3 separate regions of the Homo sapiens genome follow, and regions 1 and 3 are each linked to region 2. Evidence: fine-mapped expression QTL. A gene starts in region 2. Each other region holds a variant in brackets. All regions are shown on one strand. Distances are from middle to middle.

What was found. PIP is the estimated chance that this variant, and not a neighbour inherited with it, causes the effect. A credible set is the group of variants that fine-mapping cannot tell apart.
Region 1: its variant is the best candidate, but not a certain one, in a credible set for the expression of SLC15A2 in whole blood (INTERVAL, PIP 0.77).
Region 3: its variant is the best candidate, but not a certain one, in a credible set for the expression of SLC15A2 in whole blood (INTERVAL, PIP 0.84).

What each region holds. Positions count from the first base shown.
Region 1 is chr3:121,940,789-121,945,033 of GRCh38, forward strand. It overlaps SLC15A2 (solute carrier family 15 member 2), which reads left to right. Exons shown (of 22, transcript NM_021082.4): 22 at 43-3,400. The coding sequence ends at 219. Among named protein-coding and RNA genes, the nearest start is that of SLC15A2, 49 kb to the left of the region's middle. The variant G/A (reference allele first, on the strand shown) is at 1,962.
Region 2 is chr3:121,892,665-121,896,909 of GRCh38, forward strand. SLC15A2 (solute carrier family 15 member 2) reads left to right here and starts at 1,737. Exons shown (of 22, transcript NM_021082.4): 1 at 1,737-1,917; 2 at 3,742-3,829. The coding sequence starts at 1,813. RefSeq lists enhancers at 163-696, 697-1,229.
Region 3 is chr3:121,916,857-121,921,101 of GRCh38, forward strand. All of the region lies in intron 7 of SLC15A2 (solute carrier family 15 member 2), which reads left to right. Among named protein-coding and RNA genes, the nearest start is that of SLC15A2, 25 kb to the left of the region's middle. The variant G/C (reference allele first, on the strand shown) is at 2,410.

The DNA of each region.
Region 1 (4,245 bases), 48 kb after region 2:
CAGGTTTCTCCATATTCTTCTCATATTTATTTCCCCCTGCAGTGGGCCGAATTCATTTTGTTTTCCTGCCTCCTGCTGGTGATCTGCCTGATCTTCTCCATCATGGGCTACTACTATGTTCCTGTAAAGACAGAGGATATGCGGGGTCCAGCAGATAAGCACATTCCTCACATCCAGGGGAACATGATCAAACTAGAGACCAAGAAGACAAAACTCTGATGACTCCCTAGATTCTGTCCTGACCCCAATTCCTGGCCCTGTCTTGAAGCATTTTTTTTCTTCTACTGGATTAGACAAGAGAGATAGCAGCATATCAGAGCTGATCTCCTCCACCTTTCTCCAATGACAGAAGTTCCAGGACTGGTTTTCCAGTACATCTTTAAACAAGGCCCCAGAGACTCTATGTCTGCCCGTCCATCAGTGAACTCATTAAAACTTGTGCAGTGTTGCTGGAGCTGGCCTGGTGTCTCCAAATGACCATGAAAATACACACGTATAATGGAGATCATTCTCTGTGGGTATGCAAAGTTATGGGAATTCCTTTATAGGTAACTGCCATTTAGGACTGATGGCCCTAATTTTTGAGGTGCTGATTTAGAGGCAAAATTGCAGAATAACAAAGAAATGGTATTTCAAGTTTTTTTTTTTATAAGCAATGTAATTATGCTATTCACAGGGGCCTCAAGAATTGGTATGTATGATGTGATCTGGTCCAGCCAGGGCCTGGCTTGTCAGCTCTCTAGGTTTGATATGACTTTAGTAAATTTGTCAATATAGATGGTAGGAAGCAGAATGCCATTTTATTAAAACACAGGAGAAGTTATATCTCTCTGATTATGATAGTATTTTATTTACTTATCCAAACCCTCCTTTCTCAGTATGGATAGATCATGGAAACCAGATTAGAGATAGTAAGCATTAGTAAACATTGTTCTGGAGAACAGGAACAGGTGTAAGTTGTAGAAATCCTGAAGAGCCAGTCATTCTTTTACAGAGTACATTCTTCTTAGCCTCTATGGCGCTGGTCTATGCCCTTCAGTGAACAGTTGTATAAACAATAATTATAATTTGCAACCTTGTCTTGTCAACCTTGCTGATCCAGCTTTTTCTTATTATTACACCTTGTCTTGCTTATTGCAGCAAATATTCAATAACAACAATGTTTCTATAAGTCCAACTTCCTTTATTAATGTTTCCATTTAGCCTCAAAAATATCAAAGTAGTTCCTTTTTGATGTTGTTTTCCTGATTTACTTTTCCCATAAGTTTTAAATACCATTTCTGCCTTGAAGCCTAGAAATTTTCTTTTTATTCAAAAAAAGTTACATTAATGCTCTAGGTTTGAGGTTCTAAAATGGAAATGTCAATAGAGGAGCATGGTCCTATGTGAGGTTCCTATCAAAATTTGTGGGAGTAGGGATGGTAGAGCATGAGGGTTTTGTTTGTGTATGTGTATGGTCATGAAAAAAAATTGAGAAACATTACCTCATACACAATGAATGAATCAGAGGACAGACACGGGAATGGCACGACTGTGCAGTGTGTTACTAGGAAAAAAGTTCAGAATCACTGTTCTAGAGAGCTTCATTTCCATTGGTTTTAAAACATTATTCTCATGTAGAACAGTGTTGGGTCTCATACTGTTAATGTTAATACGTAACAATGTTCATGTTAACAGGCACCTGTTAATATTAACAGATAATGTTACTGTTAACAGGTAAGAGAAATTGCTCTAAGTGCCCAAACTTTATATACTTCAGTTTTAATGACAAGCATTTCAGAAATATAAGAGCGGCAGCCAGACCAACCAGTTTTTCCAGATATCTTGATGTGAACCTGACCCTACTCCTTTAGAAGACAGCCTGTTCATTTTTAAATAGCTTTAACCCAAACTGTTCTATGACCATTGTTTCAAGAGACATTAACACAGTTCTGTAAATAGAAGTGTCTATGGACAAATAA[G/A]TTTGGGAAATGTGGCATACTGTATCCTTTTCTTAACATTTGCATATTAAAGACTCTGAGATATCCTGCAGTAAAGACACAAGATACCTTGTTTAAATTAACATGTACGCTGCAGAACATTGGTTTGGAAAAAACTGTTGAGCAGTTCTTCCTTGTAAGTGCTGAGCTTCCTCTCTGAAACCTCCTACCATTGTTTTTTTTCCCCTGTAGCTAACAAGAATAAGTATAACAGCCGGCCAGGCACAGTGGCTCATGCCTGTAATCCCAGCACTTTGGGAGGCTGAGACAGGTGGATCACCTGAGGTCAGGAGTTCGAGACCAGCCTGGCCAACATGGTGAAACCGTGTCTCTACTAAAAGTACAAAAATTAGCCAGGTGTGATGGCAGGTGCCTGTAATCCCAGCTACTCGGGAGGCTGAAGCAGAAGAATTGCTTGAACCCGGGAGGCAGAGGTTGCAATGAGCCGAGATCACGCCATCACACTCTAGCCTGGGGGACAAGAGTGAGACTTCATCTAAAAAAAAAAAGAAAAGAATATGTATACCCCCTTTTTCATGTGGCAGATGTTTAGCTATTTGGGGAGAACTTTCATGGCTCTTCCCTAATCATCAAGTATTCAAGGTAAAGATTCTCGGTTCCTGTAATGGTTCCTCACCAGGCATAATTTGTCCTTTTACCATCCTACTTTCTGTCTTCTGAAAAACATTCTTTATCTGAAATACAGCAATTAATATTAAGATATCTTAATATGAAGTGCCTGGAGTCAAATATAACATTCCAAAGTAGTCTGACTGGAAGAACTAGCACCTGCCTTTCTTCAAACAATGCACTTCTGTTAATGCAGTGTAAGGTAACATGAGTTGTTTTTGGAAACTACATCATAATGTGGGCTTACATTCTAGCACTTATCACTTAATGACAGGGATACATTTGAGGAATGCATTGTTAGGCAATTTTGTCATTATGCAAACATCATAGAGTGTACTTACACAAACCTATGGTATAGCCTACTACACATCTAAGTTATATGGTATAGACTGTTTCTCCAGCTATATGGTGTAGACTGTTTCTCCTAGGCTACAAACCTGCACAGCATGTTACTGTATTAAATGCTGTAGGCAATTGTAACACAATGGTATTTTTATACTTAAACATATCTAAACATAGAAACGGTACAAAAAACTTTACACATTATATAGATGTATCAAATTATTCATATGTGCTCTGAAAATGTCTATATCTGTTATGTATCAATTTTTTAAAAAGTGAATGACATAATTCATTTGAAAAAATGTGGACACACAAATTGGAAAAGAGGTATAAATGCAGTATTATAATCTAATGGGACCACCATCACATATTTGGTCTGTCATTGACTGAAACTGCAATATAGAGTTTTTCTTAACATTTGCATATTAAAGACTCTGACTATATATGGACATATATGACTGTCACCATTGTAAGACATTTTGATGTTATTCTAAGTGACATGTTAAACCATTGGAAGTTTAGAACATGAGAGTGACATAATGTGATCATTTAAGATCACTTTGGCTGCTAAGGGGAGAATTATCTATAGTCAGGAAGGAAAAGAAGTAAGGAGTTAAGTTAGGAGGCTTTTGCAATAGTTCAGGCAATAGATGGTAGTGACTTGGACAAGGTGATAGTAGTGGAGGTGGAGAGAAATGGTTTGACTTGGAATTAAACTTTAAGCTAGAACTGACAAGATTTGAGTGTAGTTTGGATACACAATTTAAAAGAAAGAAATGCGCCAGATGTGGTGCCTTACACCTGTAATCTCAATTCTTTGCAAGGATAAGGCAGGAAGATTCTTTGAAGCCGGGAGTTCAAGACCACTCTAGGCAACATAATGAGACCCCCTCTCTACAAGAAATAAAAATAAAAAAATTAGCCGGGTGTGGTGGTGTGCACCTGCAACCCCAGCTTCTCAGGAGGCTGAGGCAGAACAATCCCTTGAGCCCAGGTGCTTAAAGCTGCAATGAGCTATGATCACACCACTGTACTCCAGCCTGGACAATAGGACCCTGTCTCAAAATGAAAGAAGCGGTGGGGGGTGGAGAGAGAGAGAGAAAGGAAGGAAGGAAGGAAGGAAGCAAGGAAGGAAGGAAGGAAGGAAGGAAAAAGAAAAGAAAAAGAAAGAAAGAAAAAAGCTCACTCCTAGATTTGGTCCTAAGTAGTAAGGATGAATCAGGATGCAATTTTCTAGAAATAGCAAAGACTAGGATAAGAAAAGTTTTCTGGTATGAGTTTTGTTTTGGACATG
Region 2 (4,245 bases):
TCCCTTTTCTTTTGACAAACAACTAGAGGGGCACCATGCTCTTTTCTTATCCTTTTACTTCTTTGGCTTGACAAAAATAACACAGCATAAAATGCACCTAGCATTATGATGTTTGTTCTTGTTCCTCTTCTGATAAGGACTAAATGTATAATTAAGGAAAATGGTGTTCACAACAGTACCTAGAAAGTAACTGGTTCACAATTTTTGCTCAAATTAAATTTTATTTATTAAATGAAAGAATAGATTAATCTTGAAGTGAGAAAATGAAAATATAAGGAGTGACTTTAGCAAAGAAGAACAATGGTTCCCAAATGTATATCACCAATCCTTTTCTCTCATTTTCTTTAGCCCCACCTCTTTAATTGCTTATAGGCTATTTCTAGCTGAACTTTTATGATGTTGAAAACAAAAGTCTCCTTCCTTCCTTCCTTTCTTTTCTTTTCTTTCTTTCCTTTCTTTCCCTTCTTTTCTTTCTTTCTTTCCTTTCTTTCCCTTCTTTTCTTTCTTTCTTTCAAGTCTTGCTCCGTCGCCCAGGCTGGAGTGCAGTGGTGGGGTCTCGGCTCACTGCAACCTCTGCCTCTTGGGTTCAAACGATTCTCCTGCCTCAGCCTCCTGAGTAGCTGGGACTACAGGCGCGTGCCACCACACCCAGCTAATTTTTGTATTTTTAGTAGAGATGGGGTTTCACTATGTTGGCCAGGCTAATCTTGAACTCCTGAGCTGTGATCAGCCCACCTCGGCCTCCCAAAGTGTTGGGATTACAGGCGTAAGCCTCTGCACCCAGCCAAAACTCACCATCTTTCTTATCTTCCAAACTCAGTTTTATGATGACTTTCCTTCTCCAATGCATTTTAATCCTCTGCATTCCTACATTCCATTTATGTAACCTCCATACCTGAATAATGACTGACACTAACTCCACTTTTCCCAGCTGTCATGGCATAGTGAAAATTCCAGATCTGCCACTTAGTGGACAGGTACTTTGAACAAATTTCTTAACCTCTGGGAACATTACTTTCTATAAAATGGGGATAGTAATATGAATTAGAATAAATATATATGTTATAGATATACAACATAGATGTAATTCATATATATTAACCTTTCAATAGTAGATGTTCAATAAATTACAGCTATTGTTACCCTGAAATCAGTTTTTCTTTTTTTTTTTTTTTGGAAATGGAGTTTCGCTCTTGTTGCCCAGGCTGGAGTGCAATGGTGCAATCTCAGCTCACCGCAACCTCCGCCTCCCAGGTTCAAGTGATTCTTCTGCCTTAGCCTCCTGAGTAGCTGGGATTATAGGCGCCCGCCACCACACCCAGCTAATTTTTTTTTTGTATTTTTAGTAGAGACGGGGTTTCACCATGTGGGCCAGGCTGCTGACCTAAAACGATCCGCCTGCCTGGGCCTTCCAAAGTGCTAGGATTATATGCGTGAACCACCGCGCCTGACCATGGAATCAGTTTTTCAATCTGTGCTCGAGGTGTTGTGTTCTTAACTATCTTCTACTCCTTTGCAAAGATAATCTTTCTTAAACATAGACTTTCTAATCAGTTCTCTAGCATTGTTTCATTCTGTCTTTGGCATGTTTTCACTTTGCTGTGCTGTACTTTTACACATTCTTTTTAACTATAGCTTCCTGCTTTGCTCTGGATCAGGAAGCTATTGAAGCTGACACCCACAGAGTTAAACTGAGTTGCTGAAGCCACCAGCTCCCCCTCCCAGTCCTTCTTTTCAGAGTAGGCTGGCAGCTGTCCTAACTGCCTACTAAAGCCAAATGCTTGAGGAGAGAGAGAGAGTAAGGAGCCAGCCATGAATCCTTTCCAGAAAAATGAGTCCAAGGAAACTCTTTTTTCACCTGTCTCCATTGAAGAGGTACCACCTCGACCACCTAGCCCTCCAAAGAAGCCATCTCCGGTGAGTCCTTAGATTCAATCCTGCCTCTGAGAGGAATGGCCTCCCTCTTTTGGCTCTCTTCCTTGGGCTCTGGAGCTTCCAGCTGAGCTGTATTAGGGTATTAAAATGCTTCTCTCTTGGATTTAGAATTCACCTGAAACCAAATCTAAACAGAAGCTTCCTTTACATAAGAAGACAAAGCAGCAGGAAGAGGTAGTCAAAGTTCTTCAGTTGGGATCCAGGGACTTGCTGAATTTCATTGCATATTCTGTTTCCCTGGGGGAAAAAAGCAATTCGAATGTCCAGGGAAACTTGGCAAGCATTCTTGTCTGAAGAACTGTGTGTGATTGTTCTTTCTTTACCAATATAAAAACTCTGCCCTTAGTTCTCCCTGTGTGCAGAGTCTTCTGCTGAACACCAATGGAAGTTTCAGAATAGATCCAATTTCTGTTACTATGTGTTCCCAGTTTACTGTGGGAGATAGGACAGAGAAACAGAGAATAGTAATGTTTTGCATTTATATACTCGCTAAAGCACTTCTAAACTCATCATCTCAGTCAATTCTTACACTAAAATTCTGTAAGTGGGGAGGATATAGTAATGATAGCCAAAATTTACTGAGTTCTTACAGTGGGCCAAAAGGTGATGTTATTCTCATTTCTTTGGAATAACAGAACAGAGGTTTTGAGACAGGTGTAGTGACAATGCCAGTATCAGTATGTTAACACAGCCAGTGGCAGTGTTGCCTAACTAGCTAACAGTGTGTCGGCTAAACTCCAGATTGCATAATTCTCAAGCTGTGAGCTGCAAAGGTAAGAAGCCCAGTTCATTGTATGTTTCAAACAAGCTATTATAAAACATTAAAATATATTAATATTTAGGAGGATCATTTATATATATCCCTAGGGTTAAAAGAATAATACATTACTTTATTATTTTGCCTATTTTTTTAGTTAATGATATCTCTTCTGGTCCCAAAGAATTTAGGGCTACTTGCAAAGATGTATATACTTCTCATGAAATGAGGCAATATAAATCTTACAAGATTTGACTGTACTGAGGACAGATACCTCTATGTCTCTTCTCATGTTAGTTGGTCTATTGTAATAGATAGGGAATTAAAATAAAACATAACATTCCTTATATTCTGACTGATATATTACATGAAAAGCATAATTCTTTTAATGTCCAGTAGGATTATCATGAAAATGTTATAGAATCTCTTTAGTAGGAAGAGTAGACATTTAATTTTACAGGATTTAAGAACTCTGCCTAAAGTCAAGGTGATCAATTAGCTTACCCTTAGGAATCTCTGTCCTCCATGTTGGGCTCTGTGCCTGACTCCAGCAGCCTCTGAAGTAGAAGCTATCATATTGCCAGGATTCCTCCCAGCATGGCAAACAGAACAGCTGGGGACAAGAGTCCCCATAGTGGGGCTAAGCAGAGACTGACATCTGAATCTCACTGCTTGGATATCAGGTATTCCATAGGCTACCTCTTTATTCTGTTCCTAGGAAGTAAATATCACCATTCTTCTGCCCCAGAGCCCTAGGCTTTTCATTTAGTAGTTGTGGGAAGATGAGCAGGTCCAAGGAATATTTGAGCAAGTCCATGTAAAATAAATAAGAAACAAAATAATATTCAGAGTAGCTTCTATTATTTCTAAATCAGTAATATAAGCACTTTTAGTGTTACCTAATAGGTGTGTCATGAAGAGTAGAGACCATTGCTCCATTACCTACCAAGATGATTTGAAATAAATGAATTTTTCAGTTTTGAAGAAATCTAATTGTTGAAACAGGGAAAAACAGCTCATGCTTGAATCATTGCCTTCTTGTTGAATAGACAATCTGTGGCTCCAACTATCCACTGAGCATTGCCTTCATTGTGGTGAATGAATTCTGCGAGCGCTTTTCCTATTATGGAATGAAAGGTAATTTTGTGTCCAAGAGTCCTACCTACTCTCCTCCACCCACCCTCACCCCATGTTTGTGACAGCCTGGTCTCTTTATATGCACTTATTTCCCGAGTCCACTCTTTCTGCCTTGGTCCAAATTGGTCCTTTACTTTGGCCAAGACTTCCAATAAATCTCTCATAGGATTTCACCTAATATGTAGGCCAAGATCAGAAAGGCCTGAGACAAACCAGAACATAGACTTTGAGAATGGGTAAGTGGGTGGAGCTGGGCATGATGGCATGTGCCTGTAGTCGCCACTACTTGGGAGGCTGAAGCAGGAGGATTGCTTGGGCCCAGGAGTTCAAGGTTATCAGGCACCTGTAATTGTGCCAGTGAATGGCCACTGCACTCCAGCCTGGGCAACATAGCAAGAACTCATCTCCAAAAAAAA
Region 3 (4,245 bases), 24 kb after region 2:
GTCGCCCAGGCTGGAGTGCAGTGGCATGATCTCGGCTCACTGCAAGCTCCACGTCCCGGGTTCACGCCATTCTCCTGCCTCAGCCTCCCGAGTAGCTGGGACTACAGGCGCCCACCACCATGCCTGGCTAATTTTTTGTATTTTTAGTAGAGACAGGGTTTCACCGTGTTAGCCAGGATGGTCTCGATCTCCTGACCTTGTGATCTGCCTGCCTCAGCCTCCCAAAGTGCTAGGATTACAGGTGTGAGCCACCACGCCCAGCCAATTAATTTATTTTTTCATTCACTCATTTTTTTAACCAACATTTAATGAACCTATTGTGTGCCATATTATGTGCTAGGTATTGGGATCACATTGGTGAATTAGATACCTAGAGCATTCATGTTCCCAAAGAACTTATATAGTTCAGTAGGGAAAGGAAGACAAACAAATAAAAGGAATTTACAATATGGTATGATCAGTATTTCCCAGATCAATATAGTGTGATCTAGGAAAGTACAGAGAGAGCTATGGGAATGCATAGAAGCAATGTTTAATTAAGACCTTGAGGGACCGGGCATAGTGGCTCACACCTGTAATCCCAGCACTTTGGGAGGCCGAGGCAGGAGGATTGCGTGAGCTCAGGAGTTTGAGACCATCCTGGACAACACAGCATGACTCCATCTATACAAACATTTAAAAATTAGCCGAGTATGATGGCGCACACCTATGATCCCAACTATTTGGGAGGCTGAGATGGGAGGATCGCTTGAGCCCAGAAGGTCAAGGCTGCGATGAGCCATGATTGAGCCACTGCACTTCAGCCTGGGCAACAGAGCAAGCCCCTGTCTCAAAAATAAATAAATGAATAAAATAATAAATAAATAAATAATACTTTGGGGATTGTAAAAAGTTTGCCTAAAGGAATGACATTTAAGGTGAGACCTAAGGGCCAAACAGCAATTAATCAATAAAGAAATTATAAGTGATGCAGAAAGAGGACACAGTAGCTGTAAGACAAGAGGCTGAGAAATAGCATGACATGTTTAAAGGTTTTAAAGGCATTCAGATTACCTAAAGCATAAAAAAGAATGATAAAGAGGAGAAACTGCCAGAAACCAGATAATGAAGGGCCTTTTAAACCAATAAGAAATTAGAACTTTATTGTGAGGGAGAGTGGGGAACTCTAAAAACATTTTAACAGAGGAATAATTGCTAGATTTTAATTTTTCAATGATGTTTCTATAATGTAGAGAAAGGATTGTGTTGGAGTGAGGCAAAGATAATATTTATTTTGATTACCGAATTTTTTGATACTTGCTTAAATTTAGTGCTTGAGATGAGTGCTTCACTCAGTTTACCCTAATCTGGCCCTGGTTGAATTAACAAACCTTAGAATGGTTAGATATGTTAAGTGAGGGAGAAGATAAGCCAAGGTTTAATGTAGTGTTCTGAACCTTGAACAACTGGGTAGGTAGTGGGGTTATTAACTGAGCTAGTGAGGAAAAGCCAGTTTGGGGCAATGTTGATAAATTTAGTTTTGAACATGTTGCATTTTATATGTTCTTGGAATATTTAATTGGAGTTACCAAACAGTTATTTGGAAATACAGGATTAGAGCTTAGAAGAAATGTTTGCACTATAGATATAGATCTGGAGTCATTAGTATATGGGTAGCAATAAACCATGAAATGAAGATAGATAACTAAAAGCTAGAAGAGTAAGGTTAAAAAAAAAAGTGGGGTGGGGGGATAGGTTCAAACTTCAAGAAACGCCAGGATTTAAAAGACAGGCAAAGAGGAAAAGCCCACAAATGAGACTAAGAAGGAATGGCCAAAGTGGTAATAGCGTTATCTTGGATATGAAGAAGATTTCAAGAAAAGATTCATTTAGAGTGATAAATGTTCCTGAGTGGGAGATTAAGATAAGGGTGACAGATGTCTATTAAATACAACAACAAGGAGGTCACTGATACGATTAGATCAGTTATGGTAAATGGTGGAGGCTGAAGACTGATTGGAGGAGACTGAGAAGTAAATGTTACAGGATTCCTTCAGTGCTGCTTTGTCAGCCAGAAATCTCTGTGGCCACTACCGCCTCTGTCTGGGCCTTGCTCTGGCCCACTGGGCTCGCTCAGCCTGCGACTGGACTGGGCATGTAGCGAGCAGCTTCTGTGTTGGGTGCGGCATCTAGACAAGGGGAACACGGTGGCGCCCAAAAACTCGGAGATGCTAGCAATTGCAGAGTCCTAAGAGGTGTTATAGCTCCTGCTCAGGGAGTCCCAAGGTCTGAGCCCCCAGAAATGTTACAGCTGTTCACTCCTGTAGTTCAACGAGCAGGAGCATGTTACAACTCTCTCCTGTAGTCTAGCGAGCGGGAGCGTGTTACGGCTCTTTTATTCCCGCTGCCCATAGCTTGGCGAGCTGCCCA[G/C]GGGTGTCACAGCCCTTTCATTCCCATCACCCACAGCTCAGCAAGTTCCGGGTTCTTGTCCCATGATGAAGAGGAATGGGGTGTGTGGACACCAGAGAGTGAGTAAAGCAGAGAAGAATTTTATTGAGTGGCAGAAGGAAAGCTCTGAGCTCCTAGAGGGGACCCGAAGTAGGTAGCCGTCTGTGAGGCTTAGTGTGGGTTTTTTATGGGTTTTGAATGGGGGAGTACATGCTGATTGGTCCATGGGTGGGTTTGGAAAAAGTACCACTAGATTGGTTAAAAGGCATCATCCAAAAGGAACCAATGGAGAGAGAGGATAAGACGGAGATAGAAGTTCTCACTCAGGTCATGGACTCTATCAGGAACCGGCAAGTCGGTTTTCAGGCTTTAAACTGTCTTTGGCTTGAAGGTCGGGTTTCACTGGGACCCGTCCGTGTCTGCCTAGGAATTTATCTGTCTCTTGTCACTATCAGTAAGAAAGTGAAATAGTATTTATAGTTGGAAGGTGACATGGATTCAAGAGAGGATATTGAGCATGTGTGAATATTATTAGGAATAATCCAGTGGAGAAAGAGGTTGAAGATACAAGATAAAGACAGTATAATCAGTATGAAAACACATATGAGCAAATTAGCTGCGGATAGGAGGAGGAATATCACCTTCACCTACCTGGAGGGAGGACAGGATGAGTGTGGATACAAGAATTAATAGATCTGGTGGCAGGGAGTTGAAGGAGTTTCCATTTGAAGGTTTCCATTTTCTTTGTGAAGTAAGAGGCAACATCATCTACTAGAAGGAGTAGATAGTAGAGAAATTCAAGGTTTATACTCATCTTCTTTAGTTAAGTGTCTTTGACATGTAAGTATGACTTTAGTTGATTACATAAGTCTTCCTATTATCACTCCACTGTCACTATTGCAACCAGCATTCCTGTGGTGTCCAGCCTCTTTCTAGGATCATTCTTAGTTTCAGGAGCAGTTTATTCCCTACCCAAAATTTTCCTTTGTCCAGGTATCTCTTTTTTTGTTTTTTATTTTTTACTTTTTTTGGAGACATAGTCTCACTGTGTCAGCAGGCTGGAGTGTGGTGGCGCAATCTCAGCTCACTGCAACCTCCGCCTCTGAGGTTCAAGTGATTCTCCTGCCTTAGCGCCTAAGTAGCTGGGACTACAGGTGCGCACCACCACGCCCAGCTAATTTTTGTATTTTTAGCAGAGATGGGGTTTCACCATGTTGGCCAGGTTGGTCAGCTCAATCTCTCGACCTTGTAATCCATCCGCCTTAGCCTTCCAAACTGCTAAGTTTACGGGTGTGAGCCACCGCGCCCAGCCGTCTAGGTACTTTTTTATCTGCCCACTTGACTCTCAGGATTAGCATTCCTCCACTGAACTATTTTTTCTATCAACCATGAGAAGGGTATTATAGATAAAGGATGCTATTTGGAGAAGCTTTGGGGAAATTGAGAGGATGAATGAGAAAAAGTGGTAGAGTGAATCTAAATGAGACGAATGGAGATATTAAAAAGTGATGGGAGAGAAAAGTAAAGTGATTTGTGCATTCTGATGTGTAAGGATACTGGAAAATGCTACTTGTCACTGAGAAAATCATCTTTAGCAGAGGATCTACTAGAGGGGCATCACGCTGAAGCTGGGAAATCCGTTAAGGAGGAAAGTGCATCTGGGAGGGAACCAAGATGGAGTATTTCTACTGATTTTAATTGAATGAAATTGAAAAAACCACTATTTTATAACTACAAAGGTAATACCAGCTCATTGTTAATTTGGAAAATAAAAGGAAAATTAAAGAAATGAAATTCCCTTACAATTAGCTGTGGATA